Linked DNA regions of Homo sapiens. The protein of the gene in region 1 purifies or fractionates together with the protein of each later gene. This does not show direct contact. Each region holds a gene or a part of one and is shown in the gene's direction. Other genes may lie near its edges. The genes, in order: TXNL1, GAPVD1, URM1, XPOT, GOT1, HID1 and PARN.

The links.
Region 2: the proteins of TXNL1 (region 1) and GAPVD1 fractionate together in Homo sapiens (co-fractionation; one large-scale study listed by BioGRID). This does not show direct contact.
Region 3: the proteins of TXNL1 (region 1) and URM1 fractionate together in Homo sapiens (co-fractionation; one large-scale study listed by BioGRID). This does not show direct contact.
Region 4: the proteins of TXNL1 (region 1) and XPOT fractionate together in Homo sapiens (co-fractionation; one large-scale study listed by BioGRID). This does not show direct contact.
Region 5: the proteins of TXNL1 (region 1) and GOT1 purify together in Homo sapiens (affinity purification with mass spectrometry; one large-scale study listed by BioGRID and IntAct). This does not show direct contact.
Region 6: the proteins of TXNL1 (region 1) and HID1 fractionate together in Homo sapiens (co-fractionation; one large-scale study listed by BioGRID). This does not show direct contact.
Region 7: the proteins of TXNL1 (region 1) and PARN fractionate together in Homo sapiens (co-fractionation; one large-scale study listed by BioGRID). This does not show direct contact.

The regions. Positions count from the first base shown.
Region 1 is NC_000018.10:56,635,556-56,639,927, reverse strand, and holds the start of TXNL1 (thioredoxin-like protein 1), read left to right. Parts: upstream 1-1,335; 5' UTR 1,336-1,487; coding exon 1,488-1,585; intron 1,586-4,372. UniProt on the Homo sapiens protein: Active thioredoxin with a redox potential of about -250 mV.
Region 2 is NC_000009.12:125,348,676-125,352,572, forward strand, and holds part of GAPVD1 (GTPase-activating protein and VPS9 domain-containing protein 1), read left to right. Parts: intron 1-714; coding exon 715-844; intron 845-1,619; coding exon 1,620-1,729; intron 1,730-2,037; coding exon 2,038-2,197; intron 2,198-3,897. UniProt on the Homo sapiens protein: Acts both as a GTPase-activating protein (GAP) and a guanine nucleotide exchange factor (GEF), and participates in various processes such as endocytosis, insulin receptor internalization or LC2A4/GLUT4 trafficking.
Region 3 is NC_000009.12:128,387,977-128,392,516, forward strand, and holds the end of URM1 (ubiquitin-related modifier 1), read left to right. Parts: exon of another isoform or gene 1-1,284; coding exon 1,285-1,333; coding exon of another isoform or gene 1,334-1,537; exon of another isoform or gene 1,538-1,689; coding exon 1,690-1,758; 3' UTR 1,759-4,040; downstream 4,041-4,540. UniProt on the Homo sapiens protein: Acts as a sulfur carrier required for 2-thiolation of mcm(5)S(2)U at tRNA wobble positions of cytosolic tRNA(Lys), tRNA(Glu) and tRNA(Gln). Serves as sulfur donor in tRNA 2-thiolation reaction by being thiocarboxylated (-COSH) at its C-terminus by MOCS3.
Region 4 is NC_000012.12:64,445,637-64,449,533, forward strand, and holds part of XPOT (exportin-T), read left to right. Parts: intron 1-2,468; coding exon 2,469-2,495; 3' UTR 2,496-3,897. UniProt on the Homo sapiens protein: Mediates the nuclear export of aminoacylated tRNAs. In the nucleus binds to tRNA and to the GTPase Ran in its active GTP-bound form. Docking of this trimeric complex to the nuclear pore complex (NPC) is mediated through binding to nucleoporins.
Region 5 is NC_000010.11:99,406,281-99,410,177, reverse strand, and holds part of GOT1 (aspartate aminotransferase, cytoplasmic), read left to right. Parts: intron 1-3,328; coding exon 3,329-3,452; intron 3,453-3,897. UniProt on the Homo sapiens protein: Biosynthesis of L-glutamate from L-aspartate or L-cysteine. Important regulator of levels of glutamate, the major excitatory neurotransmitter of the vertebrate central nervous system. Acts as a scavenger of glutamate in brain neuroprotection.
Region 6 is NC_000017.11:74,969,912-74,974,330, reverse strand, and holds the start of HID1 (protein HID1), read left to right. Parts: upstream 1-1,571; 5' UTR 1,572-1,674; coding exon 1,675-1,740; intron 1,741-3,538; exon of another isoform or gene 3,539-3,642; intron 3,643-4,419. UniProt on the Homo sapiens protein: May play an important role in the development of cancers in a broad range of tissues.
Region 7 is NC_000016.10:14,623,364-14,627,260, reverse strand, and holds part of PARN (poly(A)-specific ribonuclease PARN), read left to right. Parts: intron 1-73; coding exon 74-155; intron 156-3,897. UniProt on the Homo sapiens protein: 3'-exoribonuclease that has a preference for poly(A) tails of mRNAs, thereby efficiently degrading poly(A) tails.

The DNA.
Region 1 (4,372 bases):
AGGGCTTTTCTGAAGACACTTTTTCTTTTTCCTTTTTTTTTTTTTTTTGAGACAGGGTCTGGCTCTGTTGCCCAGGCTGGAGTGCAGTGGCGCAATCATGGCTCCCTGCAGCCTTGACCTCCCCAGCTCAAGGAATCCTCCCACCTCGGCCTCCCGAGTAGCTGGGACCACATGTGCGCGCCATGACGCCCGGCTACTTTTTTGTATTTTTGGTAGAGACGGGAGTTTCACCACACTTGTAATTGCAAAATTGCCCTGAAATGATTTTTCCATTCTCTTCCCGACAAAATCCAAATTCCTTAGCTAGTCATTATCTGACCTTGGCCTTCCCTCCAATTTCATCTCCCCAGCTAAATCCAAAGACAGATAATTTGCCACCTAGCCTAATATTTAAAAGAGTACACTGGCGTTAGCCTGCCTTGACTTGAAATCACAGAACCTACTTCACAGGGATTAAATGAACTAGTACACATATAAAGAACTTATGTCTTGCCTGGTACATCATGTGGTAAATATTAGCTATTCTTCTTATCCACCCTCTCAACTCATGCATTTGCACCTGGTGGTCCCCTTGCCTGGAATATTACCTCTCACCATCCATCTAACCCCTGCTTCTCTTTAAAGATTCAATCCAGGAGTCAGATTCCTAGCAAGTTTACCCTGCCCCACCCTTCCATCTCGTTAGTCTCCACCGCTTCCTATTCAAATTATTGTTTGCGTCGGTCACTAGACCGTGAACTTCCTAAAGGAGGGATAGTGTCTTCATCTTTTTGGTCAAAACCTAAAGACAGGTGCACGATACTTTCTGAATGACTGCACAGAAAGCGCCCCATATGTAATTAAGTCTGTTAATAAATATTCCTAAACGTTATTTTGTCTTGTATGTAGACCTGCCCCGAATACAGTACAGGAGCATCTTCAAAGTACTTCCAGTGGGTGCCCTGGACAGCAGCTAAGAACCCCGGGGTAAAACGAGTTTCCTCTCTACTGTTACAAATCAGAAACCTCCTCCGTAAAAGCCTCAGATCTGGGAAACGCGGATGCATATGCCAACTTTTGAGTCTCAGTCTGCGCCTGCGCACGTGACCTCTACACGTCTCCTCTGCGCCTGCGCCGCTCAAGTTAGCGCGAGGCTACTCAGTCGAGGGTGGGACTACGCTTCGCGTTTTGGGATTGGGCGCTGAAGGCCAAACCGGACGACGCGGAAATGACGTCACGCCGGGGGCCCTGCCGCGCGGTGGCTGCTGGGTGCCGCACGCCTTCCCATCCTCCTCCTCTCCCCTCCCCCATCCCTCCCCGCCCCCTCGGCCGCTCCGCTCCCTGGCGTGACTCGGCACTGAGAGTCCCGGGAGAAGACTCGGCGGTCGCCACCTCTTCTGTCCAGGCCTCGGCCTTCCTGAGCATCTCTCCTTCCTCTCCCAGATCGTCTTCTCCTTCAGTTTCAAAGCCAGTGGCGTCGCGGCCACCCTGCCGGGCTCTCTGTGAGGATGGTGGGGGTGAAGCCCGTCGGGAGCGACCCGGATTTCCAGCCAGAGCTGAGCGGCGCGGGCTCCAGACTCGCCGTGGTCAAGTTCACCATGAGAGGGTGAGGCCAGGCTCGAGCTCTGTGGGTCCCCGTCTGTCCTTCCTTGCTTTCCTTTCACTCTTTGTTGGCCCTGGTTTCCTAGCCGTCTGCTGCCCCGGAGTGTCCGGCAGTCGCCGCAGCCCCAGGAGCTGCCGGAATTAGGCCTCGTTTCTCGGGTGTGAACCCCCATTTATGCACAGGGGTTCCTAGACGGGCTCGGGGGCCTGGCTGGCCGGCTTCTCCAGCTCAGGAGATTTCTCACCTGCTCCTTTTCAATTCTTTGACAAACTGGTTTTGGGGGTGGCCCGCCCCTATTCCTTCCAGCCTGTGGGAGTCTCCGCAGCCACCCTTGCCTGAGCCTGACCCCTTCTTTCTGCAGAGCCAGCTGTCATTTGCATCTCCAGAGCTCCAAAAGCTTAATTTACCGAACACTTTGTTTCTCTTCACCACCTACATCTCTCTAAAGCCTTTGAAGATTCAGATGGGGCGATCTAACTAATATGCGTAGCTCTGAGTCCTGAATTTCTGCTAATGCATTTCGAACTAAGTTAACGTTGGGTTAGGGTGCTTTTTAAATTATTTGAACTTTTTTCTTCCTCGTTCGGCCACTAACTTGTAGCTTAGGCTCCCCTATGTATGCGATTGCAACTGGTCACACACGACAGTACATATATAATATATTTCAGGTGGACAGTTGGCCGGATGTCTTAGTTTGACCCGGCTCTGTTTTTTCACTTAAGAGGACAGGGATCTTGAAAAATGTTAACTGTCTTTGGTAAATATCAACAAAATTATAGGTCGTAGAAAAGGTGGACCTTTTATAGTGGATGTGTAGTAAAGTTCCTTTGTAAGAATGACATGTTGGAACTCGGCGTTGAGAACCAAGATTTCAGCGTGTGTGTGTGTTTCACAGATCTCTCCTTGTGTATGTCGATAGTATTTAGTTAGAAGTATGAGAGGTTTCCGCTTTATTTTCCTTGACCCCTTGGCGTTATTTATACATCTAACTTGGAGCAGTCTACTGCTGGTATCACTGTTTATGTAACACACTTTCTTGTCCAAATAACTGTATAAACACAAAATTCCATTTTGAATTTCAGAGCAAAAAACAAAGTTTCTACTAGATGGTTCACTAAATGTTGAGTATATAAATGGTGGCATTAGGATTATATCGTTTTAGGGAATGGATGCAGATAGATATGAAAACAAGTTAAGACTTATTTTTGGACCAGTCTCTCTTACACTGAATTGAAAAAGGATAGTACCTTGCATTTCATATGGTGGGCTAGAGTACCCATATGATATACGGAATTTTGCATTTACTAAATTTAAAAGGATAAGTGATGTCATATATATAAAACACCTAAAAGGAATGTTAGAATTCTATAAATGTGTCTTCTCATTTTTAGCAATTTTGTGATGTCTGTATTCTTAATAATAGGGGAATACCTGTAGTACATTAAGTATCTAGGCCACAGTAGAAAAGGGAAGATAGGATTTCAATAAGGAACCTCACCTCACTTTTAGTTCACTTATTCTAATTCTGGCCCGTCGAAGCTTTTATATTTTTGTCCCTCAATGATATATTGTTTTTCTCCCTTACCATAGCAGTGGGAGAGATAATAAAATAATAAATAAATATTGATTGAAGTGAGAAAACTGGGGAAACATTGCTGCGAAGGAAGGTTTTTTCTATCAGTGTGGTGTCACTTAAGCATAAGCATAACTGCAGACATTGATTGGTAAGGAACTGTTACATTTAAAAAGGTATTTTAGTGGAATTAAAATTTTTTTTCTTTGTAAAAACCGAGGGAAAATTAATGTTTGGATTTAGAGTAAGTTCAAAAGCATATTTATATTACGTTTACAAATCTGGTAAGATTATTGTATTTACCTTTAATATTCCTCGAACTTATTGGCCATTAATACATCCTGTCTAAACTCATTGTCAATAGAACCCCAGAATTATGTATATGACGGGTCAGTATTAGACTCAGAAACAACTGTATTCAGTAAAATCTTGTAAGAATCCTCTTAGATCAAAGTTAATGCTGTCCCAGTTTAGACTGAGGGCATAGTTTCTCCAGCACCTATTTCATTTCCTTTCCAACCCTATTTTAAACCTTTTTTCTTTTTTTTTAACCTCTATGCTTTATGCACTCTCAGTCTAAATTTTACTAAAATGATACATAGATTGTTCTCCTGTGTAAGAATCTTTAGTGGCTTATGATAAAATATATATAACATAAAATTGACCATTTAGCCATTTGTAAGAGTATAATTCATTGGCATTAAGGACAGTCAGCCCTCTGTATCCATGGATTGAACCAAATGTGGATAGAAAATATTTGGAGAAAAAAAATTGCATTTGTGCTGATCATGTACACACTTTTTTCTTGTCATTATTTTCTAAACAATACAGTATAACAACTATTTACATAGCATTTACCTTAGGCATTATAAGTAATCTAGAGATGATTTAAAGTATATGGGAGAATGGTCGTAGGTTATGTGCAGATACCATGTCATTTTCTATTAGGCCCTTGAGCATCTGTGATTTAGTGTCTTGCTGGAGGTCCTGAAACTAATCCCCCAGATACCCAGACATGACTATACAGTCACAATGTTGTGCCACCATCACCACTGTTTCCTATAACTTTAGACAGAAATTCTATATCCATTAAAGGATAACTCCCCATCCTTACTTCTCCAAAGGGACAAAACTGTACCCATTAAGCAGTAATTTGCCCCTCCCCATCTACCTCCTTGGTAACTTCTATTCTGCTTTCTGTCTCTATGAATTTGTCA
Region 2 (3,897 bases), on another chromosome or scaffold:
TGATTTTTGTATTTTTCATAGAGACAGGGTTTCACCATGTTTTTCAGGCTGGTCTTGAACTCCTGACCTCATGTGATCCACCCACCAAAGCCTCCCAAAGTGCTGGGATTACAGGTGTGAGGCACCGCACCCAGCCGTGTATTCTTGATTAAGACATAAAACCAACTTTGGAAACCACAGATCTGACTTTGTTGCATGTGTGATTTGGTCCCTTGACTCACTCTTGGGTGTAGCAGGAAGACCTCCAGTAGAGAGAATCAGGAGACCTTAACCCATAGTCAACCTTGGCCATTGGCCAACCAAGAAATTTAGAGCAAGCCATTTTCTGACTGGGCAGGAGTCCATGTCTATAAAATGAGGGTATAAAATGATTTTTGAAGCCTCTTTTAGTTCTCTGGTTCAGTGATTCTAAGATGTTAACTTTATTAAGTTAATGTGAACTTTCATTATTTTGCATTAGTTCATTGTTTTGCATTAGTATTGGGATAAGAAGTAAAACCACTCTCTTCTCAGCAACTAGTCTCTTGATACATAATTGTTGCTATTGATAATTCAGTTAAGTATTTGAAGTTTGTTTTTTCTTTCTTTTTTTTCCAGAGAACTCTTATTATTAGTCAATGGTAATTTATTCTTGAGTTGCTCTGAATACCTACTAGTGCCATAATATTCCAAATGAACCTGGGTATCCGTTTCTTGGGGGTGGGTTTTGTTTAGAGGTTATGGGTGATGGTGAAAGTGCACATGATTCTCCCCGTGACGAAGCACTGCAGAACATCTCGGCTGATGATCTCCCAGACTCTGCAAGCCAAGCAGCCCACCCGCAGGATTCAGCTTTCTCTTACAGGTATTTCTTTTATAGGATTTGGGACTTTAGGGTTTGGACTTTTCAGCACCATTGCAGTCACGTCAAGTCAAGTGATGTTTTGAGTCAATAAATGTATAAAGCAGGGAGAGAAAAATGAAATGCTGTTTACTAAGAAGACTTTGTTTCAGTTGTAGATGTTATGTATCAAAGGTGTTAATTCAAGGATTTAAAAAACTCGCTGGGCGTGGTGGCTCACGCCTGTAATCCCAGCACTTTAGGAGGCCAAGACAGGTGGATCGCTGGAGCCCAGGAGTTGGAGACCAGCTTGGGCAACATAGCAAAATCCCATCTCTATAAAAAAGAAAAAGGAAAAAAAAAAAAAGAAGAAAGGGTTTCTTGTCAGGTAGTGAGCTTATTTTGTGGCGTCATCAGCGTTTCTAAAGAGATGTGCCAGAAGGCATTCCAAATCTGGGTGTTGGGAGCTTCTGACTTCCGTGGTCCCTCCCACTCTGCCATAATATGCTTTTCCGATTCTTATAGCACCCGTCATGGAACTCAGTGTATGAAAAAAGGTCAGAAAGGATTTGTTGTTTGATTCTGGTGCTTTAAAGAATGGTCCTTGCCCCGAGCACACCTGGCTCCTTGGGTAATTAGAAAGCCTGTTCTTTTAAGTGGAGTGTCAGTTAAGAATCATCTTCTTTAAAATGTTTGAAACATTTGAGTCCTAAGGTAACATTAATTTATATAGTAAATATTTGTAAAATGTGACCATATCTGGATAAAGAAATTAATGTATTTTCTACTCATTTTTCAGAGATGCAAAAAAGAAACTGAGGCTTGCTCTTTGCTCTGCGGACTCTGTTGCCTTCCCAGTGCTGACCCATTCAACAAGGAATGGTTTACCAGACCACACAGACCCAGAAGGTAAATTGCTGCAGGATCGTTTAATTTTTCCTATGTTTATGGGTTGCACCATATGAAATTGCCAGTATTCAGCTGTTGAAGCTGTACAGCAATTCCATATGGTTCAACTTAATATGTTTACATTAGTATCACTTAAGGGCACTTTGATTACTGATGATTTATTAAAGTATTTTCTAATTGGGAGTGGCAATACAGCTTAGTTCTAATGATACGTGACAAAGCAGAATTGACGTCCCAAATGCTGAATTAGCTTATTTAAGCACATGGAAATTCTCAAGAATAACAGAATTCTTGTATCTTTTATTTAGACAATGAAATTGTATGCTTCTTAAAAGTTCAAATAGCTGAAGCAATTAATTTACAAGATAAGAATCTAATGGCTCAACTTCAAGAAACAATGCGCTGTGTGTGCCGTTTTGATAATAGGACTTGTAGGAAACTGCTGGCTTCGATTGCTGAGGACTACAGGTAATATACCCCACCTGTTCAGCTTTTAAACCTAGTTGTTAGCTGCAAGTGTTTTCTTTTTTATCCTTATTTCAGAAATGAATCTAGGCTTCCTACAAAGTGCTTGGCTGTATTTTCCTGGATGTAGATTTCTGTGTTAGTCTGTTCTCACGCTGCTGATAAAGATATACCCGAGACTAGCCAATTTACCAAAGAAGAGGTTTATTGGACTTACAGTTCCATGTGGCTGGGAGGCCTCACAATCATGGCGGAAGGTGAAAGGCACATCTCACATGGCAGCAGACAAGAGAAGAGAACTTGTTCAGGGAAACCCCCCTTTTTCAAAACCATCAGATCTTGTGAGACTTATTCACTATCACGAGAACAGCACAGGAAAGACCTGTCCCCATTGATTCAATTACCTCCCACTGGGTCCCTCCCACAACACATGGGAATTCAAGATGAGATTCGGGTGGGGACACAGCCAAACCATATCTTTCTGCCCCTTGCTTCTCCCAACTCATGTTCTCACATTTCAAAACCAATCATGCCTTCCCAACAGTTGCCCAAAGTCTTAACTCATTTTAGCATTAACTCAAAAGTCCACAGTCAAAAATTTCATCTGAGACAAGGCAAGTCCTTTCTGCCTATGAACCTGTAAAATCAAAATCAAGTTAGTTACTTCCTAGATACAATGGAGGTGCAGGCATTGGGTAAATACAGCCATTCCAAATGAGAAAAATTGGCAGAAACAAAGGGGCTACAGGCCCCATCCAAGTCTGAAATCCAGCAGGGCAGTCAAATCTTAAAGCTTCAAAATGAACTCCTTTGACTCCGTGGCTCACATCCAGGTCACGCTGATGCAAGAGGTGGGTTCCCATGGTCTTTCTTTTTTTTTTTTCCCCCGAGATGGAATTTCGCTCTTGTTGCCCAGGCTGGAGTGCAATGGTGCGATCTTGGCTCACTGCAACCTCTGCCTCCTGGGTTCAAGCAGTTCCCCTGCCTCAGCCTCCCAAGTAGCTGGGATTACAGGCATGCGCCACCACGCCTGGCTAATTTTGTATTTTTTAGTAGAGATGGGATGTCACCATATTAGCCAGGCTGGTCTTGAACTCCTGACCTCAAGTGATCCACCTAACTCAGCCTCCCAAAGTGCTGGGATTACAGGTGTCAGCCACCACACCCAGCCAGGGTTCCCATGGTCTTAGGCAGCTCCGCTCCTGTGGCTTTGCAGGGTATAGCCACTTTTCTGGCTGCTTTCATGGGCTGGTGTGGAGTTGCTGGCTTTTCTAGGTGCACGGTGCAAACTGTCAGTGGATCTGCCATTCTGAATTCTGGAAGACAGTGGCTCTCTTCTCACAGCTCTACTAGGCAGTGCCCCAGTAGGGACTCTTTGTGGGGGCTCCGATCCCACATTTCCTTTCCGCACTGCCCTTGCAGAGGTTCCCCATGAGGACCCTGCCCCTGCGGCAAACTTCTGCCTGGGCATCCAGGCGTTTCTATACATCTTTTGAAATCTAGGTGGAGGTTCCCAAACCCCATTCTTGACTTCTGTGCACCCACAGGCTCAACACCTCATGGAATCTGCCGAGGCTTGGGGCTTGCACTCTCTGAAGCCACAGCCTGAGCTCTGTGTTGGCCCCTTTCAGCCATGGCTAGAGCGGCCGGAGGGCAGGGCACCAAGTCCCTAGGCTGCACACAGCATGGGGACCCTGGGCCTG
Region 3 (4,540 bases), on another chromosome or scaffold:
GGCCTTCTCTGAATCCGGTTCTCCCCTTCCTCCTCCCTAACTCTTCCAGCTCTGAGATCTGTTTTCAGTTTTCTTGTTACTAAACCGAACTCTTGAGGATTTTTTAAATCCCAGATGAAAGGAGCCTGGTGAATTTCTCAGAAAACTTGGATTCTGCCCTCTGGTTGCCACAGACTTGCTGTGGGACCTTAGGCGACTTACTTCGCTTCTCTGGGCCTCAGTTACTCTCTACACAGAAAGTGCTGAGGAAAAAACGTAGCTAGTACAACTGAAGAGCTAAATATTCTGTTTTATTTCATTGTAATTTAAATAGCCACATGCAGCTAGTAGATTACCATACAGTGCAGCACGGGTCTAGAATTCCAAGGAGTCATTGACTCTGTGCGTGCACACACCCATGCACATGCACACACACTCACTGGGGACACCCCATAGAAGCCCAGTGCAGTCTCCTTGGAAAGGACCAGGTTCCAGTTGCCACGAAGTTACTTCTAAAACAAGGCCAGTCCCCCACGTGAAAGGTGGCCGGTGCAGTTGTGAGGCTCGCTTATTTGCCTCGAAGCATAGGTCACTGTCAGGTCCTAAGGGATCAGGCCTAGGGGATCAGCCCTCCTTCAGGTCATGGTCCAGTGGTCCTGGAGGCCACCTCTAAGGCCAGCAGTGCTCCTTGGGCCATTACCAGTGGGAGCCAGGCTAAGCTGCCTGACCAAATGTTGACCTACCCTGCCTTATGCCAGGCAGGACTGCACGTGAGCATTGCCATGTGGCATGGCAACTGATTCGGAAGAGGCAAAACAGCCTTCTCTCCAGGATGGGCATGCAGAGGCCTAAAAAAAAGCCGAAGTTCTTTTCCAGGGCTAACGAGAATAAGATTAGACCCCTGGAAAAGTCCTACTAATGGTTACCATGACAGTGTGGCAAGCACTCCACACATATCAGCTCATTTCGTTTTCGTATAGGCCTTGTGGGTTAGACAGTATCACTTATCCCATTTTCAGATGAGGAACCTGATACTCAGAAACAAAATGACCTGCCCATGGTCTGGGTGGTGGTGCTGGCTGGCATTTGCACCCATTTTCCATCTGGCTACAAAGACCATGCATGACTGACCTGGTTTCCTTCACACTCAGACCAGCCTCCCCTTCCTGGGATATCTTTAGCCAGACCCCAGGAGGAAGGCTCCTCAGCACACTCTCCTGCAGCCCAAAGCTCTCAGCCTCTCTTCCTCTGTGCTACTGCCTCCTGCCTCTCACTCCTTGCTACTCACCACCATCTTTCCCACAGGCGGCCAGGAATTCTGGTGCTGATTAACGATGCCGACTGGGAGCTACTGGTCAGTACCTTGGGGGACATCCCTCCCCCAGCCCCTGCCCTTGCTGCTTCAGTGGGAAAGCGTTGGGCCTCTCCTCAGGCACATATAGAGTGGCTGGGTAATCCTCCGCCCCACTCCAGCCCCACACTGAGGCTGCTGGAGTCTCCCACTCCAGGTGAGGAAGGGATGGGTAGCTGGGGACATGGGAGTACTCCTCCATCCTGAAGATTTGCAGGTTGAGGTATAGGATACCCATTTTTCTGGTAGAGTCTGTCTCTTCCAGAGCAGCCAGTCCTCAGCCCCTGTTCTCCCAACTCCTGGGGTGGACCTGGGAAGGTGGCCCTGAGGGTCTCCCGCTCCCCTCTCTCCCGCACCAGGGTGAGCTGGACTACCAGCTTCAGGACCAGGACAGCGTCCTCTTCATCTCCACTCTGCACGGCGGCTGAGGGCCCTTCTCTGGGCCTGGGCACCCTTAGAGGGGAGAACGAAGCAATCAGACATCCCCTTGGGCCCTGCTTCCAGGTCTCCCTGTCCCCCTTGCCTGCCTTCTTCCCTGCTCTGTCCCCTAAGCTCCCTCCAGGCAGGGAAAAGAGGCCAGGTGCTAAAAATGAGCCTTTCTCAAGCACGTGAGCAGCGGAAGGCAGACAGGCGCCAGAGCCCAGCACTCCCTTTTCCAGCAGCTGTGGTGGGGGAGGGTTCCCCTCCAGTTTGTCAAGAGTTGAAGGAGGCTCTGTGGCCAGGTGACCTGGCTGCCTTCCACTCCTTGTACCTCAGTCTAAACATGGAGTGGCCGCTGACAAGGCGCTCCAGCCCCAGAGCCAGCGTCTTCATGGGGAAGATGAATGGACCTGAGTAGCTGAAGGAAGGCCCCTCCCTACCCAAAGACTGGAGGCTTCTCAGCCTCAATTTCCCTGTCTGTACAGCTGAGGGCTCTGCCTGTCCCCCACTGCTATCAGTATGGAACCCCAGCTGGGGTCCCCTATTGAGTGCCGACTCCCCCCACCGCCAGCAGCTGCTCCTCCAGCCACACCCCTCCTGCTCCCCCCACCCCTAGCCCTTGACCCTGGCTGGCCTGCCCCGCTCCACAGGCCACCAGATGGGCTCCTGAGACCCTCCCCAGGCTGCTTACAGCTCATTCTGCTGGGGGTAGAGATGAGGGGAGGGAGTAAGTTAAACCTTGGACTAGCAAGTAGAAGCCTGGGGGGATGCGTGTGCCTCAGTTTCCTCCTCCACAACTGAATATAGTGGCTGAAAACTGGGGAGATACTTGATGGCGCGAATGTCCGTTTTCTCTCCCTTCCCACCTCCTGCAGGAAGCAGGACGGGGCAGGCAGCACCTGGTAGGCACAGTGCTTTGCCCCTCCTCCCCTTCCCTTCTGGAAGTCTTGGGGCCTCAGTGCTTGCAACAGCCGGCCTTGGGCAAATAAAAGACTAGGTTGTTTACTAGCCTTGCTTGGAGCTTCATCCTTGGAAACGGGTGGCACCTCATATCCCCCCAGCCGTGGTCTGTGATACAACCTCTCCATCCTCAGCCTAGGGCCTCAGAGCTACCCTTCACCCAAAAGAGGGGTGGGGGTGAACACTCAGACAATCTGAGAGGGGGTAGTCTAATAGAGCCATCTGGAGAAGGGAGTGGCAGAGCCAGTCTGTGCTGACCAGTCTGTGTCCCGGGACGCATCCCCACCCGTCTGTCCAAGGCTTTGTCCCACCAGCTGCAGCCAGCAGCCTCAGAACCCAAAATGAGGGTAGCATAGATAAGACTGCTGAGCCCCCTTTCTGTGGTCTTTCCTTTCCATGACCTAGAGAAAAGAGCTTTGCTGGAGGGAGACCCCCAAAAAGAATTAGGGTGCTAACATCCCACCAAAAGCATCATCCCACCCAAAATGTTGCTTTTCATTCTATGTCAATAATTTAAGGTGGAATTTCTCTCACCCTGTGGAGATGAAAGTGGCAAAAGGTTGTCCCAGCAGTGTTGGGGGATGGGGTGTGCACATCATTCTTTTGGGGGTAGATGACCTGCTGGCTGGTGGGCTTTTCTCCAGGACTACTGCAGGTAGAGACCCTCTGGGCTTGTGTGGAGTGGGAGCAGCCGTGTTGGGACTATGGGGAGGAGCTGGTCTGGGTGCAAATTAAGGCCAGTGTTGGGGTCTGAGTGCTGTCCAGAAAGGCTGTGTGACCAACCCTCACTAGTTCCTGAGGTCAGGGTCTCCATGTTAGGGAACAGAGCAAGAGACTTGGAACAGCTCCCTACAGCTGCACTTCTAGAAGGTCAGCCTGTCCGATTCTTGTAACCTGGAGGTCCCTCCCCATCTGCAGCCCCCTGAGCTGCAGGAGCGGCCCCATCAGTGCACCTGATTGGAACACACTAGATTTCAGGTCCTGGAAACTGGGCGCTAGGATCCGTTTCCCTGGCTGCAGAGAGTGGGAGGTGTGATGTGGAATATCCCTTCTCCCAGCACACCCCAATTAATACTGAAGAGTAGGGCAGGAGGAGGTGCTGGGAAAACCGGGTTTCTTGGCACATGGGGGTGCAAGCACTGTGGTTGAAATTGGCCATGTCCAAGGCACACCAGACGATTTCAGGTCATTTTTAGCCCTAGACTGGAAAGGGGTCAGGGGACAGGTGACCTGGGCTCAGCCCCCAGCAGCTCCCAACTGCCCCTCTCCCAAGCAACTCCTGATCCCTGCTTTTGAGGAAATAAACAAATAAAACCCCGCTATCTCCGAAGATTTTTCTTTAATGAAAAGGATTCGTTTTTCCAAATTCTATTTCCAAAGCCGAGGAGATTGCCGGGCTGGAGCGCATCGTTGGTGACGCTTGCCCGTCGGACCCTGGCAGCGGCTGGAGGAGGCTCAGCCCATCGGTCCGTCCGGAGGGGCTTGCGGGAGGGGTTGGTTTGTTTGGGATTTAGGGGTTGGTTGAGGATTTGTTTTGTTTAGGTAGGGAGTATTGGGGTGATAAGTTAGAACAACTGCGAAACGAGTTAGCGGGCGCATTCGGCCGGCCTCTTCTTTCACCCCCGACTTCATGCGGCTTGGGCTGAGGGCGGACCACATTCGGCCCCGCCGCTGCGTGCCGGCTTCGTTCCGGCCGAAATTTGAAAGGAGGAAAAACGACGCGATCGACTGAAGGACCCTGCCGGCCGGGACTGGTCACCCGCAGAGAAGGAAGAAGGACGAGGATGCGGATGGCGGCGCTGGTGGCAGGGACCGGCGTCTCTGTGCGCG
Region 4 (3,897 bases), on another chromosome or scaffold:
ATGAAACTGTCTTGGTCTTACCTAGGTAGTCATTCATTTCATACATAATGACTGCTTTTTATGTACCAAGTACTACAGTAATGGCTGCAAATACAACTATGAGTAATTTTCCCTCCCCATAAGGAGCTCATGATCTAGAAATAAAGTTACAGTGTGACAAGGTGAATTATTTTTTATTATCTTCACTCAAATAATTTGAAGACAAAGCACTGTATTAAATTCAGTAGCAGGTAACTTAGTGTATCACCTGGTTCTTTTAGCAAAGACATTCAGTAGAATTTGTAAGTCAGAGGGCTTTGCGCAGTAAATAATTTAAGTGTGCCATCCTTTGACTGTGGTTCTAACATCTTCCCTTGTCAGTTTTTTCTTAGTTGTAGTTTGTCAGCTTAAACATCTCAGAGTTTTTGTGGAAGAATATTGAGGGCTTGTTTTTGTTTATCATTGGGAACCCTCCCCTTCGCCATCCTCCCATAAAAAAGCAAAGTGCCTACAGGAGTAACCCCTGTTAAATAACTGATCAGTCAAACTGAATTTAAGGACTCAGTCCTCACTATCTGTTAGAGGTGTCTGTAACAGTAGATCTAGGTACCCTATAGAAGGCTTGTTCTCCAGATGTGGTTATTTATCTGCATAGCATTTATAAAAAGTCTTCCTTCTGGGCCCAACTTCTCTTCAGTGATGACATTATCTTAGTGATCATAATTCTCAGTGTTAGCATTATTATTCTAGTTGGAAAAAATGAATTTCATTCGTGTTCACTCCTCCCTTCACATCTGATTGATCCTCAGATCTTGCAGATTCTTTCCTCATCTTCTCTCTCTTCTGTCTCTGCTGCTCTGGTGTAGGCTGATGTTATCTTACTCTGATCTCTCTTCTCTTGTTCTAGCCAGGCTGATGTGTTTGAAAACTTCAAGCAGTCCTTTGATATTTATTCACCTTCCTCATAACCTTCCTGAACAAATTCATGTTTCTCAGTTTGGCACTTAATTTTTTTTTTTTTTCATATTCTGCCCTGAGACTACCTTTCTGTTTTTTCTTGCAGAAATGGTCTTTACTGTTCTTGTAGTTCTTCAAAAATCCTGCCTTACTAGCAGCCCAACTTCTGTATGAACTGTACCCATTTCTCTAGGTTTGCCTTAAGCACAGCCTCCTTGTAAGGTTTTCTTTTGCCTATATAGTGATCATTCTTTCCCCTGCACATAGTAGATTATCTATTAAATGAATCTCCTAGGTACTAGGGCACTATCAATACTGTTCTTGTCTGTATTAGTCCATTTTCACGCTGCTGATAAAGACATACCCGAGACTGGGCAATTTACAAAATAGCTTTATTGGATTTACAGTTCCACATGGCAGGGGAGGCTTCACAATCATGTCGGAAGGCAAGGAGGAGCAGGTCACATCTTACGTGGATGGCAGCAGGCAAAGAGAGAGCTTGTGCAGGGAGACTCCCATTTTTAAAACCATCAGATCTTGTGAGACCCATTTACTATCAGGAAAACAACATGGGAAAGACCTGCCCCCATGATTCAATCATCTCCCACCCGGTCCTTCCCACAACACATAGGAATTATGGGAGCTACAAGATGAGATCTGCGTGGGGACACAGGGTCAAACCATATCATTGTCCTTACTGAGAACACTGAATTATGTCTGGTGCTCACCTGACCTGCCATGGATGGCAGCATGTAGTACTAGGCCATGCCTAGCACAGCCTCTAGCCAACTCCTTTGTAGTCTCAAATTTTGACTTGGAAGTACTTTTGAATCATCAAATAAATAGTAAATTCCTTACAGAGTTAGAACTGCTATGTTTAGCTTTGACTTGTTTCCTCCTCAATATTTAATTTTTTTTTTTTTGAGACGGAGTTTCACTGTTGTTGCCCAGGCTGGAGTGCAGTGGCACGATCTCGGCTCACCACAACCTCTGCCTCCCAGGTTCAAGTGATTCTCCTGCCTCAGCCTCCCGAATAGCTGGGATTACAGGCATGCACCACCACACCCGGCTAATTTTTTCTATTTTGAGTAAAGACTGGGTTTCTCCATGTTGGTCAGGCTGATCTCAAACTCCTGGCTTCAGGCCTCGGCCTCCCAAAGTGCTGGGATTACAGGCGCCGTGCCCGTCCTCAATATTTAATTTACCAGTGTTAATTTGGAAATAGTACCAATCAGTAAAAAGGTGTCAAGAGCTTGTTTTCTTCTGACCACTTGATTTCTATAGCATAGAGATAACACCATATTTTCACTACTTCCCCAGTTGGGTGATGTCAGCATAAGTTATATCTACACTTACCAAACTCTCCAGAACAGAAAGTTCTTAGCTTGGATTACATACGGATATATAAGGCATGCGAAATGTTCTAATGTTACAGAAGAACATTGCTAGCACTCAGATACTTGGAGCCATTCTTCAGGTGAAAGTGATATCTTCTGACATTAGTATTGATTGCATTAATACTTTATTTACAGGTGTTCTTCCAGAGAGCAAAGCCCTGAGGACTGGATTTCCCTGTGCCTACTTCATGATCATGAATTCCAGTTAATTTATAAAGAGGCGATTTTTGTGTGCCATTCACACTGGTCTTTTTCACATTGTTTTGAGCTTATTGCAGTATATGTTTTGGGATTTTTCTGTAAAATGGGTGTAATTTTCCTAATACAGGTATGTAACAACAAAAGAAGTTGCCTGCATGCCGGTCCAAATTGTTCTGTATAAAGATGCTCTTAAAAGACACAAGAGTTATCCTAGAACCTTAATTCTTTTTTATTTGAAATTTTAAGTCAAGTCCTTTATAAAGACCATAGCAGTGGAAAACAGTGTACTTTTTAAAAAATTGCTGAATATAAAATCTTTGAAAATTTTCTTTATGTGTGAAGACACAAAGTATGGGGGAAGACAGCAATCAAAACTAACTTTTTGTAGATAGCCATTTCATTTCTTTAAACTGTTTCAACGCCAATATGTATTCTACAAAAGAGAATGGTTTTAGGCTCCAGTGTTATACTTTTTTTTATATATATATATAAAAATAAACTTTACGTAGTGAAATCTTCCAAGTCTTTTCTGGAATTATTATAAATACTTTAGTTTTATTTTCTCATCTTAATCTCTCCATAATTTCCCATTTAAAGGTTTACAAATATGAGTGTGTGGATGCTTTAATTCATTTAACCTCACTCCTCAAAGGTAACATGCAACTTAGTTCTGTTATATGAGAGTCTTTTTCTTTAATGTACTGGAAAAAGCCTATGTGAATCTGTTGATAGAATTTAAAATTCCAGGCCGGGCGTGGTGGCTCACGACTGTAATCCCAGAACTTTGGGAGGCCAAGGCAGGTGGATCACTTGAGGTCAGGAGTTCGAGACTAGCCTGGCCAACATGGTGAAACCCCATCTCTACTAAAAATACAACAGCCAGGTGTGATGGTGCACGCTCGTAATCCCGGCTACTCAGGAGGCTGAGGCAGGAGAATCGCTTGAACCCGGAAGGCAGAGGTTGCAGTGAGCTGAGATTGTGCCACTGCACGCCAGCCTGGGCAAGAGAGTAAGACTCTCTCTCAAAAAAAAAAAAAAAGAATTTAAAATCCCAATTTATTTTCTAACTCTTTTATTGGATGTATTTAGAACACAGTATACCTATAGTATACCTATGTGTTTATTATGTTTGTAAATGGTAACTGACATTTAATTATTAGAAGTACTTACCCCTGCCTTCCTCCATTTTTATTCATGGCTACTTGAGAAAGCAAAAGGAAAAAATAATAGTTATCAGTAGTGTCACTGGAAAGAAGAGAGGAGGGACAAAACTGAGCAGCAGAATTCGTATAGACATTTACGTTTAAATTCTAAAAGCCCAATTGAGATGTTCAGGGAGGGTTTGTTTTGCCCTTTGGCCTCA
Region 5 (3,897 bases), on another chromosome or scaffold:
TTCAGGTAAACCACAATGTGGGGGCAAAACTTTTAAAGTAATAGCAAGGGATGAGTGCTCAGTAAGGATCACTGTAAATAACAGAGTAGTTAGCACACCAAATCTGACACACACTGAGCATTTTCACCCCAGTGCACTGCCTTTGCCCCTCTCTGTAATGTACAGCTATGTTTAGTTCTGCATCCCCTTGAATGTCAACTTTGCTTATGTTTCACATTTCAGATAGTATTCTTTCACAGATGCTCACACCTATAAATACAAACAGAACATTGGTGCATAATAGTGCCGATAATTGGTAACATTACCTTGTTGTTGGCTTAAATGGGATTTCTACTAAACGATTCACTGTTTTTAAGCTGACTTATGGGTTAAATGAATTTTTTTCAGTCATTTTCAGGAAGTATCCACTGTTTCCTGTTTTACTAAGCATTTATCTCAGGAATAGCCAAGCTTTTCTTACCTGTTGTGATGATCATTTGGGTTTTCTCTATCTAGCAGCATGATTGGTTTTATATCTCTTATAATCCATTCATGGGATGACTCTCAATCAAGGGGGTAATTTTAATGTACTGCTGGATTAATATTGTTCATTAATGTTTACTTGGGAAGTTAGTATCAAGGTACGATCTAGGTCTCTCATTCTACTTTTTTCCCTTTTGTTGTCTTTTAGCAGCAATGTTATGTTAGGTTCTTGAAAAGATTTAGGAAGCTTTTCTTCTCTAAGAAGAGTTTTAAAACTTTTTTATTGGCCAGGCGTGGTGGCTCATGCCTGTAATCCCAGTACTTTGGGAAGCCGAGGCAGGCGGATCACGAGGTCAGGAGTTGGAGAGCAGCCTGACCAACATGGTGAAACCCCATCTGTACTAAAAACACAAAAATTAGCTGGGTGTGGTGGTACGTGCCTGTAGTCCCAGCTCCTCAGGAGTCTGAGGCAGGAGAATCACTTGAACCCAGGAGGCGGAGGTTGCAGTAAGCCAAGATCGTGCCACTGCACTCCAGCCTGGGCAACAGAGCGAGACTCTGTCTCAAAAAACAAACAAAAAAAAAACACAAAAAAAACCTTTTTATTATGGAACATTTCAAATCTATATGAAAGTAGAGAAAACAGTATAAAGAATGAATCCCTGTGTATCCATCACCTAGCTTCAACAATTATCTGTATAGGGTCAATCCTGTGTATTTCCATCTACCCACTCCCTGCCTCCCTGCCTCCCTGCCCTCCACGAAAGCTGGATTATTATTTAATAGTAAATCCCAGACATCTAAATAGGTGTTTGAAATTGTAAAATTTTATGACTAATACATGAATACATTCATCTTATTTTTAAAAAAACGACTTATAGATTAGGCCAAAGTCCCTTTCAACCACTATTCCTACATCCTTGGACCCCTCCCCAGAGGTTGCCACTGTTAGAAGATTGGCGTGTGTCCCTCCTTGTATTTACTTATTTATTTATTTGAGACAGAGTCTCACTGTGTTGCCCAGGCTGGAGGGCAGTGGTGCGATCTTGGCTCACTGCAACCTCTGCCTCCCAGGTTCAAATGATTCTCACGTCTCAGCCTCCCGAGTAGCTGAGATTACAGGTGTGTGCCACCATGCCCAGCTAATTTTCTTGTATTTTTAGGAGAGACAGGGTTTCACCATGTTGGCCAGGCTGGTCTCAAACTCCTGGGCTCAAGTGATCCACCCACCTTGGCCTCCCAAAGTGCTGGGATTACAGGCGTGAGCCACTGCGCCCGGCTAGATAGACTTTTTCATGTGATCTTTTTCTTCCTTTCTCTTCAATCCTTTAGACAAATTGGGCAACATGGGGTTTATGACATTTTTCTGCTGAGAGACTTATGCTGAAACCTAATTAGAATTTTGAAGAGGCAAAATCAAAGATCTATAGGCAGAGAACTACATCATTAGAATGTAGTGACTCCATCTAGAATGGAAAACCTGGATTTGTGCTGAGCTGTGCCACTCACAACTGTGTATCCTTTGGGAAAAACATGTCTCTGAATCAGTTCCTCATGTTTCAGGGGATATAGACTTGACTTTAGAGGGCATGTGGGCATTGAGTATACATGAAAGCATTTTGTAAATGATAAAATATAGGAATAGAAAACCAAACACCTCATGTTCTCACTTAAAAGTGGGAGCTGAACAATGAGAACACGTGGACACAGGGAGGGGAACATCACACACGGGGGCCTATCGGTGGGTGGGAGGCAAGGGGAGGGAGAGCATTAGGACAAATACCTAATGCATGCGGGGCTTAAAACCTAGATGACGGGTTGATGGGTGCCACAAACCACCATGGCACATGTATAGCTATGTAACAAACCTGCACATTCTGCACACATATCCCAGAACTTAAAGTAAAATAAATAAATAAATAAATAAATAAAATATGGCTTTTATTATTGCCTATGTTAGGTCACTTTAGGATGAGAGGAAGCCAGCCAGGCGCAGTGGCTCACACCTGTAATCCCAGCAGTTTGAGAGGCCAAGGCAGGCAGATCACAAGGTCAGGAGTTCGAGACCAACCTGGCCAAAATGGTGAAACCCCGTCTCTACTAAATATACAAAAAATTAGCCGGGCATGGTGGCAGGCGCCTGTAGTCCCAGCTACTCGGGAGGCTGAGGCAGGAGAATCACTTGAACCTGGGAGGCGGAAGTTGCAGTTAGCTGAGACCATGCCACTGCACTCCAACCTAGGTGACAGAATGAGACTGTCTCAAAAAGAAAAAAAAAAAAAATGAGAGGAAGCCAAGGAGAAGAAAGTAGTACTCATGCATCACCTCTGTTTTGTTAGAACATACTTCTAAGGATTAATAAGCCTGAATTCTAGAGATGAGGAGTAGCACAGATTGATGTCAATGACAAGTTAGGAACACTGTTTTAGAGGCTTATGCTAGAGGGTAAGTTTGATCTTAGGATGGGTGCTGAAGAGATGGGTTTGCCTTCCAAGGCATGTGCGTGCATGCACACACACACACACACACACACTAATGTGGCCTCGGTGTGTCCTCTACCTCTGTGTTCAGAAGGGAAGCTTCTTCTAGTGTCAGACCTCCTGGGTTGAAGACTGGCACTCCTGCTCAGTAGCTGGTAACTTTGAGCAAGGTTCTTCACCTCTCTCAGCCTCAGTTTCCTCAGTTGTAAACATGGGCAAATCATAGTACCTTTTTCATGTAGTAGTTGTAAGGTTTTGATGAGATAATACAATTAAAAGCCTTAGCACAGAGCAGGCATAGAGTAAGTGCTCATTATTACCTTATTTTTGTAAATATTATCTGACCTCACCATTATCAGCCTGTGACCCTGTTTCTTCTCTTTCAGGTAGGAGGTGTGCAATCTTTGGGGGGAACAGGTGCACTTCGAATTGGAGCTGATTTCTTAGCGCGTTGGTACAATGGAACAAACAACAAGAACACACCTGTCTATGTGTCCTCACCAACCTGGGGTGAGTCTTTCAGCTGAAGTGAGAGGAAAAACAGAAACCAGAGAGAATTATCCTCATGACTCTCCCTGGTTACACAGAAAATGTAATCCAGCCCTAGAACAACTGACTGTTGGGAATGGCTTGAACAGTGGGTTATGGCAGTGCATGAGAAACCTGCTGCTCAAAATCAAGTTAAGAATACTCTTTCTCAAGACTCTTAGTAGACTTGTATCTACCAAGGCTATGTTGAAACTCCCCAGAGGAGGCATAGAATGTAGATGCAGGAAGTATCATTGTAGTAGAATATAAGTCTGGCATTAATGTGACTGGTTGAACTTGTTCTTGGTTACAATCATTCCTCTACATCTTAACCCCCAGCCTGGATGATGCCCAGTGGACATTGAGCCTGGGAGGGCCCTGGAAGCTGACTTGCATCCTTTCCACTCATGCCTCCTAGTGTTTGTAA
Region 6 (4,419 bases), on another chromosome or scaffold:
TGGTGGCTCACACCTGTAATCCCAGCACTTTGGGAGGCTGAGGCAGGCGGATCATTTGAGGTCAGGAGTTCAAGACCAGCCTGGACAACATGGTGAAACTCTATCTCTACTAAAAACAAAAAAAAATTAGCTGGGGGTGGTGGCGGGCCCCTGTAGACCCAGCTACTCGGGCGGCTGAGGCAAGAGAATTGCTTGAACCCAGGAGGTGGAGTTTGCAGTGAGCTGAGATTGTGCCACTGCACTCCAGCCTGGGTGGGCGACAGAGCGAAACTCCATCTCAAAAAATAAAAAATAAAAAAGCATCCAAGATTTCCAGAAGCTTCCAGACATAGCTTGCAAAATGATGTTGTGGAAAAAGCGCAGCCTCATTTGGATGAGCTCCTTACTACCTGTGTGGCTTTGGGCAAGTAATTGCTTTAAGCCTCATTTTCCCCAAGTGTAAAATGGGGATAAAATAATACCTCAGAGGTAGCTATTAGAGATATCGTCATTGTCGTCTTGTTTTGATTCCCCCCCCCCCCCCGAGATGGAGTCTTGCTCTGTCGCCCAGGCTGGAGTGCAGTGGCGTGATCTCGGCTCACTGCAACCTTTGCCTCCCAGGTTTAAGCAATTCTGCTACTTCAGCCTCCAGAGTAGCTGGGATTACAGGCGTGCGCCACTAAGCCCAGCTAATTTTTGTATTTTTAGTAGAGACGGGGTTTCACCATGTTGGCCAGGCTGGTCTCGAACTCCTGACCTCGTGATCCGCCTGCCTCGGCCTCCCAAAGTGTTGGGATTACAGGCGTTAGCCACCGCACCCGGCCTTGTTTTGATGATTAATCTGCCTCTATTACAGGCTTATTTGGCTGTACCCTGGCCGCTTCTTTCCTTATCCCTCTCCCTAGCTGCTCGCCATAAAGAGCAGGCTGTACTACTTATGTCCGCTGTGTCCGTCCATGACACAGAGTTGGCAAATACCAGACCCTCAGCACATTTGTTGAAATGGATGAATCTCAAAGGATTCTCTGGGAATCTGGTGGCTAGAGAGGGGTCGGGACCGCGAGGGACTCTCGCGCTCAGCAAGGCGAGGAGCTGCTTTCCTGGAGTATGGAAACTGAGTCAGCGCCTCCCTCCCTCATAACCAAGGGCCTGCGGGACTGTCTGAACACGTGGGTTTGACAGGTCAGAAAAAGGGAGAACCAAGAGAGTGGATGCTCAGAAAACATGAATGGGAAAGACAGACTGAGAAGGAGGAAAGTGGGATGGAGAGGGCCAGCTGAGACGTGGGCCAGGAGCCGGAGCGGAGATGAAGGGTGAGGACCGGGGCGGGGGACGAGCTGCGAGGAGGGTTTTGGGCCCTGGGGACTGCGTGGTAGCAGCGGAGGCGGGTACAATGCTCCGACGCAGAAGGAAGAGCGTCGAGGCTCCGGGTGGGACCTGAGAAGGCACCCGGCGTGCGGCGGCGCTGGGTTGGAACCGCCGACTCCGCGGGTCTTCGGCGGCGGGCGCTGCAGGTGCAGGAGGCGGAGCCACGCGGGGGCGGGGCCTGTCGGGGCGGGGCCGACGAGGGCCGGGGGCGGGGCGCGCCGCTTGTCTCCTGCGAGAGCCGCGGGGGCCGCGGAGCTGGAGCCGGAGCTGAAGCCGGAGCCGGGTTGGAGTCTGGGCGGGGGCCGGGCCGGAGCGGGCTCCAGAGACATGGGGTCGACCGACTCCAAGCTGAACTTCCGGAAGGCGGTGATCCAGCTCACCACCAAGACGCAGGTGCGCCACGGGGGCCCCGGCGTCCCCATCCACCTGCCGGGCTGGGGGCTGGGCAGGGCCGGGGGTACGCGAACTTGGCTCGTCGGGAGATGGGGGGACGGGCGGGCCCCGAGCGTAACGCCAAGGCCAGCGCCGGAACGGGACCCCGCGGCCTGTACCTGGAAGCTCCATCCCCTGGCCCTAGTCCCCCACCCTCAGCCTCCTCTCCTGGGAACACCCCTCTCCCCGAAGCCGCTGCTGCCACCTTAGGCTGACGTGTGCCTACTCCCCGAGCCGGCGACACAGCTGTCCGCCCCCTGTCCCGCCCCGCGGCGTCCCCAGCTTCGCATCTCCAGCCTCCCGCCGCCCCCACCCACCCATCCACCGTCCGCTCCCCTCCCTGCCCCTCATTGCCCGCGGGTCCCGGACGCACAGTCCCTGTTGACTCAATGCAAACAAAGCCTGGCTGGCGTCCGCCCGGGTCGGAGAAACAGCTGGTGTGCGCGGCAGCGGCCTCGCTGGGCCCTGGTCGATGCCCGTGGGCAGGGAAGGCCCAGGTCTTCCTGGGAACACGCAAAGAGTGGCGGGCAGCGAGGCAGCCTGGTGGGGGGCCCTGTCCCCAGGCCTACTGAGCACAGCCTCCCAGCTGGGGACCTCTCCAGGGGCCTTCCCCGAGGCCCTGCAAGGGAAAGGCTGTTAGCCTGTGTGCTCTGTTCTCTGGCTCAGGGATGGGGACCCGCAGGATGGCCCTCAGTCAGCTGGTGAGGGGCCTAAGGACCCTCCAGCCTAGTCCATGCTCATAACTCTCCTGTGAGTCCACAAGTGGCCCAATAGCCACCTCCTTATACCACCTGGCCCCAGCAAGACTGCTTCTCTGCCCACCCCTTCTCTCCTGGCTTTTTGAATCAGGCCACCGTGGCCACAGAGATGCTCGGCCCTGACTCCCCATGTCCCCCATTTTCAGGGGACACAGGACCTGCTGCCATCTGGGATCTTCCTCTTTCCTGGCCCCCCCACCTCCTGCTCTCCAGGGCTCTCTCTTGCTGCTGGAGGTTAGAGTGGGATGGAGGAAGCCAGCTCCCACAGCCAGCTGGTCACAGCTCCAGGGGCCAGACCTTGCTCCCTCACCCCTTTCCCCACCCTGGAAGGGTCAAATGTGCAGCAAATGCCCAGGGCCTCTGGAGAGTCCAACCCCGGCTGAAAGGCTCTTGATAGAAACCAGACCGCACTTCTCTCCATTCCCTACGGCTCCTGGGTCGTTCTGGAGCTTGGCTTTTTTAGGATGGGGTTTTCGTTCTGTGGGTGGCAGGGAAGGTGGCAAGTGGGCTAGCCCCTCAGTGTAGGGCTGCAGGGAGAGGAGTGGGGAGGCAGGGAGGAAGGGAGGCTCCCATGTTTACCTGCCTGGGGAAGAAACTCCTTGTTGGAGGATTGCACTGTGGGCTCGGCAGCTGGGGTCCTTTGCCAGGCCAGTGGGGCCAGCTCAGCAGAGTACCAAAGGCTCTGGAGTGGCCTAGATTCCTACCTGCTCAGGCCTTTTCCCCAAAATACTGTGTCCCTCTGTCTTTCCCTGGCTACAGCCCTATGATGGGCCACTTGAGATGGTGCTGTTCTGTTTCCCAGCTGAGTAGGCTTGGAATAGAACCTGGATAGGCTGGAGATCAGACCAGCCTTCTGGAGAGCACTGGGTCCTGTAGGCGGACGGGGGCCTGGGCTGCCCGGGGGGAGAGGCCTTCAGAGGCTGAAGCCTTGGACTCTGTGTAAGTGACCTGACTTGGGTAGCTTGGGTGTGAGGATCAGAACCCAGATGATCATCACTGACCTTACCACTTGGAGTCCCCAAGGAGATTCAGGCCAGTTGTCCATAGGATGATATGTGGTTCCAGGCTCTTACAGGGTGTGGCTTGGGCAGTAGACAGGCAGAACTAGCCCCTTTTCCTGTGGCCTGGGCCTGTATCCCTGCTGCTCCACCTTCCTCGCCTTCCTGCCCTGCATCCTGTTTTCTTCCTGCCCCATGGTCCAGTCCTGGGTCAGGCCTGACCCTGGTCCTAAGAGCCAGCCGCTTTGGCTGTGTTTCCTGGTGCTTCCTCATAGTAGGTGGGGCTCTGGAGGGAGACAGTCCCAGACCTGGAACCCTCTCCCAGATCCTGCCTGTTTGGAATTCTCTGCTGCAGGCCAGATGAACCTGGCGGGTGCATATTTACATGTGTATACATGTATGTGCATGGGAATGCATGGTGACACAGTCCTCTAGAGCAGGCTTAGCAGGCTTGAGGACTAGGGGACCTTCCCCCTGCACACCCTGAGAGTCAAAAGATACAACTGCTCCCCCAGGTCTGAGTGGGGGTCTAGTCCGAGCAGGGGCCTGGAAAAGCTGGGTTAAGAATATCTGATTTTGGGCCGGGTGTGGTGGCTCATGCCTGTAATCCCAGCACTTTGGGAGGCTGAGGTGGGAGGATCACCTGAGGTCAGGAGTTCGAGACCAGCCTGAGCGACATGGAGAAACCTCGTCTCTACTAAAAATACAAAAATTAGCCAGGCGTGGTGGAACATGCCTGTATTCCCAGCTACTCGGGAGGCTGAGGCAGTAGAATCGCTTGACCCCAGGATGCAGAGGTTGCGGTGAGCTGAGATCATGCTTCTAGCTTGGGCAACAAGAGCGAAACTCTGCCTCAAAAAAAAAAAAAAAAAAGAAAAAAGAAA
Region 7 (3,897 bases), on another chromosome or scaffold:
TGTTAACAAACGTTGGGAATTCCGTTTTTGTGGCACAATGTCACCTCCTAAGTCTCCTTTTATCTTATCCCAGGTATATAACGAAGTCATTTAACTTCTATGTTTTCCCGAAACCCTTCAATAGATCCTCACCAGATGTCAAATTTGTTTGTCAGGTAAGTAGCATAATTGAGATTTTTCTTTTCTGAATTGCTGATGAGGCAGCATGGAAATGTGAAATCAGAATTTGGTTCTCTATTAACTTTGGGCTTTGGGGCAAATCATTTCACCTTTGACCTTCAGTTTTAGGGTAATAAATTCATGACCCTGTTATCTCCTCCTTTGCTGTAGAATGAATTAAGGAGGGCCAGGTACGGCGGCTCATGCCTATAATCCCAGCACTTTGGGAGGCCGGGGAGGGCGGATCATGAGGTCAGGAGATCGAGACCATCCTGGCTAACATGGTGAAACCCTGTCTCTACTAAAAATACAAAAAAAAAAATTTGCCGAGTGTGGTCATGGGTGCCTGTAATCCCAGCTACTTAGGGAGGCTGAGGCAGGAGAATGGCGTGAACCTGGGAGGTGGAGGTTGCAGTGAGCCGAGATCACGCCCCTGCACTCCAGCTTGGGCAACAGAGCGAGACTCTGGCTCAAAAAAAAAAAAAAGAATGAATTAAGGAATAAGATGCAGAGACAGACAGACAGATATGAGAACATGAGGTTTAGTAATTCTAAAGCTGAATTTGAGAACATAGTTTCGTAACTCCATTTGGGATTTTTATTATTTTACCCCCAAGTTGAACCACCTACACATCAAGACTTGCAGGCTTCTTGGCTGGATGTGGTGGTTTACACCTGTAATCCTAGCAGTTTTGGAGGCCAAGACGGGAGAATCACTTGAGCTCAGGAGTCTGAGACCAGCCTGGGCATAAAATAGTGAAACCTCATCTCTATTTTAAAATAAAAATTAAAATAAACAAAAGACTTGGAGGCTTCTCCCTATCCTCACTCATTCTCCTCGCATCCACTCTGAGGGTGTAGACCTTTATTTTCTGGAAAAGCAGAGTATGTGTGTATCCTATGCAAAAAGAGAAAGCGCAGAAGGGGTTCAAGTATTTATGCTGACTTCCTTTTCTCAAGCTCACTAATTAGGAAAGGGGGGTAGAAAAAAAAACTACTGTTTCTCTTGAGGAGAAGAGAGCTTAATTGATGGGTCAATATTAGGGAGGTTCTCCTTCAGGATATTCCCTCTAGAGGTGTTGTAGCTGACCTGGTAGACACTCAGTAAATATCACTGTTTCCTTTCTGCTCTTTTGATTATCTGTTGTAATGGATAAGGAGAATGTGAGTAAGGGGTATGGTTGTGTGGCTATGTGATTAAAGATAAGTCTTAATCTTTTCTCCCTTAAAATCTTGCATCCTATCTTCTCTCCCACTAAAAACATGAATTCATTTGAGTCTTGCCATCTTTCCCTTCTCTTGCAGATTAATGGTAATGCAGTTATGAAAGCCTCGAGGGTAGGCTTCAAGTGATTGAGTTATGTCAAATTCTTTCTCAAAACTGGCAGTATATAAACAAATGAAATCGAGAGTTAATCATATGCTTATGGGCAAAAGAGAAAAGGTGAAGGTTAAATTCTGGTCTTATAGACAGTTTCCTAAATTAGCAAGTAAACCAGTTGACATTTTACCTTTACCCTGCAATCAGTTAATAGCTATTTGTCAATCACCGTGGTATGGGATACTTAAAGAGTATTTATAAATTTTCTTTTCTTTTTTTTCTTGAGATGAAGTTTCGCTCTTCTTGTCCAGGCTAGAGTGTGATGGCATGATCTAGGCTCACTGTAACCTCTGCCTCCTGGGTGGAAGCGATTCTCCTGCCTCAGCCTCCCGAGTAGCTGGGATTACAGGCATGCACCAAGATGCTCAGCTAATTTTGTATTTTTGGTAGAGGTGAGGCTTCTCCATGTTGATCAGGCTGGTCTCGAACTCTCGACCCCAGGTGATCTGCCCGGCTTGGCCTCCCAAAGTGCTGAGCCACCGCACCCGGCCTTACAGTTTTGTTTTGTTTTGTTTTTTTTTTGGTAAATTTTCATTGAGGGAAAAGTAGGCTCAGTTGGGAAATTTGTGTGGATATAGTTTTCTAGCAGTACCAGCAACACAGAATTATTTAAAGTGGGTTCCATGGCTTTGGCCAGGGGTTAATCAAACAAAAGCAGAGGGTGGCAATGAGACACCTTGGGGATGGCACTTTGTTCTTTTTTTTTTGAGATGGAGTTTCGCTCTTGTTGCCCAGGCTAAAGCCCCGGGTTTAAGTGATTCTCCTGCGTCAGCCTCCTGAGTAGCTGTTATTACAGGCATGCACCATCACGCCGGCTTATTTTATATTTTTAGTAGAGATAGGGTTTTTCCATGTTGGTCAGGCTGGTCTTGAAATCCCGACCTCAGGTGATCCTCCCATCTTGGCCTCCCAAAGTGCTGGGATTACAGGCATGCACCACCACACCGGCTAATTTTATATTTTTAGTAGAGATGGGGTTTCTCCATGTCGGTCGGGCTGGTCTCAAACTCCTGACCTCAGGTGATCCTCCCACTTTGGCCTCCCAAAGTGCTAGGGTTACAGGCGTAAGCCACCACATCTGGCCGATGGCACTCTGTTCTAAACAACCAAGACAAAACTGGTTATTTTGAGAAATGTATTGGAAACAGATCAGAGGAACTTCACCCATTGTACAAACCATGATTGTACACCTGGAATACTTAATACAGTTGTAGTTGCCAGCCACTCCTTTAAAAAAAGCTATCATAGACTTGAAGATAGCCCAGAGAGTAATGTCTAAAACAGATGAATAAAAATGCCGGGATTCTCTAGTGTGGAAAAGCAAAGGCAGAGAAAAGGTTTAGACTCTAAATTTGGGAATTGTATGAAAAGGTTAATGTATTTTTGGATTTTCTTTGGTCTCTCATTTAAGGTTTTTGTTTTATTTAAAATTCTATAGTTGTAGCAGAGTTGCATACAAGGGCATTAGTTTCTGGAGTTATTAAGTAGGGTGAAAATTGGGTCAAAATCTCTCTCAGAAAGCTCTTATCACCCTTAAAGCATATAGGATTTGAGGATACAACAATTTAATATGTTCTTTAAAAAATAAGACCCTGTGTGCGCAGTGAGATGCTCCCATATGCTTGTCAAGATGTGGAGGAATGGGCTGACAGAACCACACTCACACCCAGAAGAGTGTGTTTGTAGAATAGTAGGGCAGTCAGCATAGCATGACATTTACATCATTTTTGTCTTCTCCTTTTTCTTTTCTTCCTCTTCCTTTTTCAGGCTGAAGATCTGTAGTTGAATTCATAGAAGGTATTTTATATATATGGTTGTGAAAAATTGAAGCATAACTGCTGTATGTAGAGTAACAGATGTGTTTCTTTTCTTTTTTTTTTTTTTGAGATGGAGCCTTACACTGTCGCCCAGGCTGGAGTGCAGTGGTGTGATTTCGGCTCACTGCAACCTCTGCCTCCTGGGTTCAAGCAATTCTCTTGTCTCAGCCTCCTGAGTATCTGGGACTACAGGCACCTGCCACCACGCCCTGCTAATTTTTGTATTTTTAATGGGGACAGCGTTTCACCATATTGGTCAGGCTGGTCTCAAACTCCTGACCTCAGGTGATCCACCCGCCTTGGCCTTCCAGTGTGCTGGGATTATAGACGTGAGCCATCGCGCCTGGCCAGATGTGTTTCTTTTTTTTTTCTTTTCTTTTTTTTTGTTTTTGAGATGGGGTTTTGCTCTGTTTCCAGGCTGGAGTGCAGTGGTGCGATCTTGGCTCACCACGACCTCCACCTCCTGGGTTCAAGCGATCCTCCTGCCTGAGCCTCTGGAGTGGCTGGGACTACAAACATGTGCTAACACGCCCAGCTAAT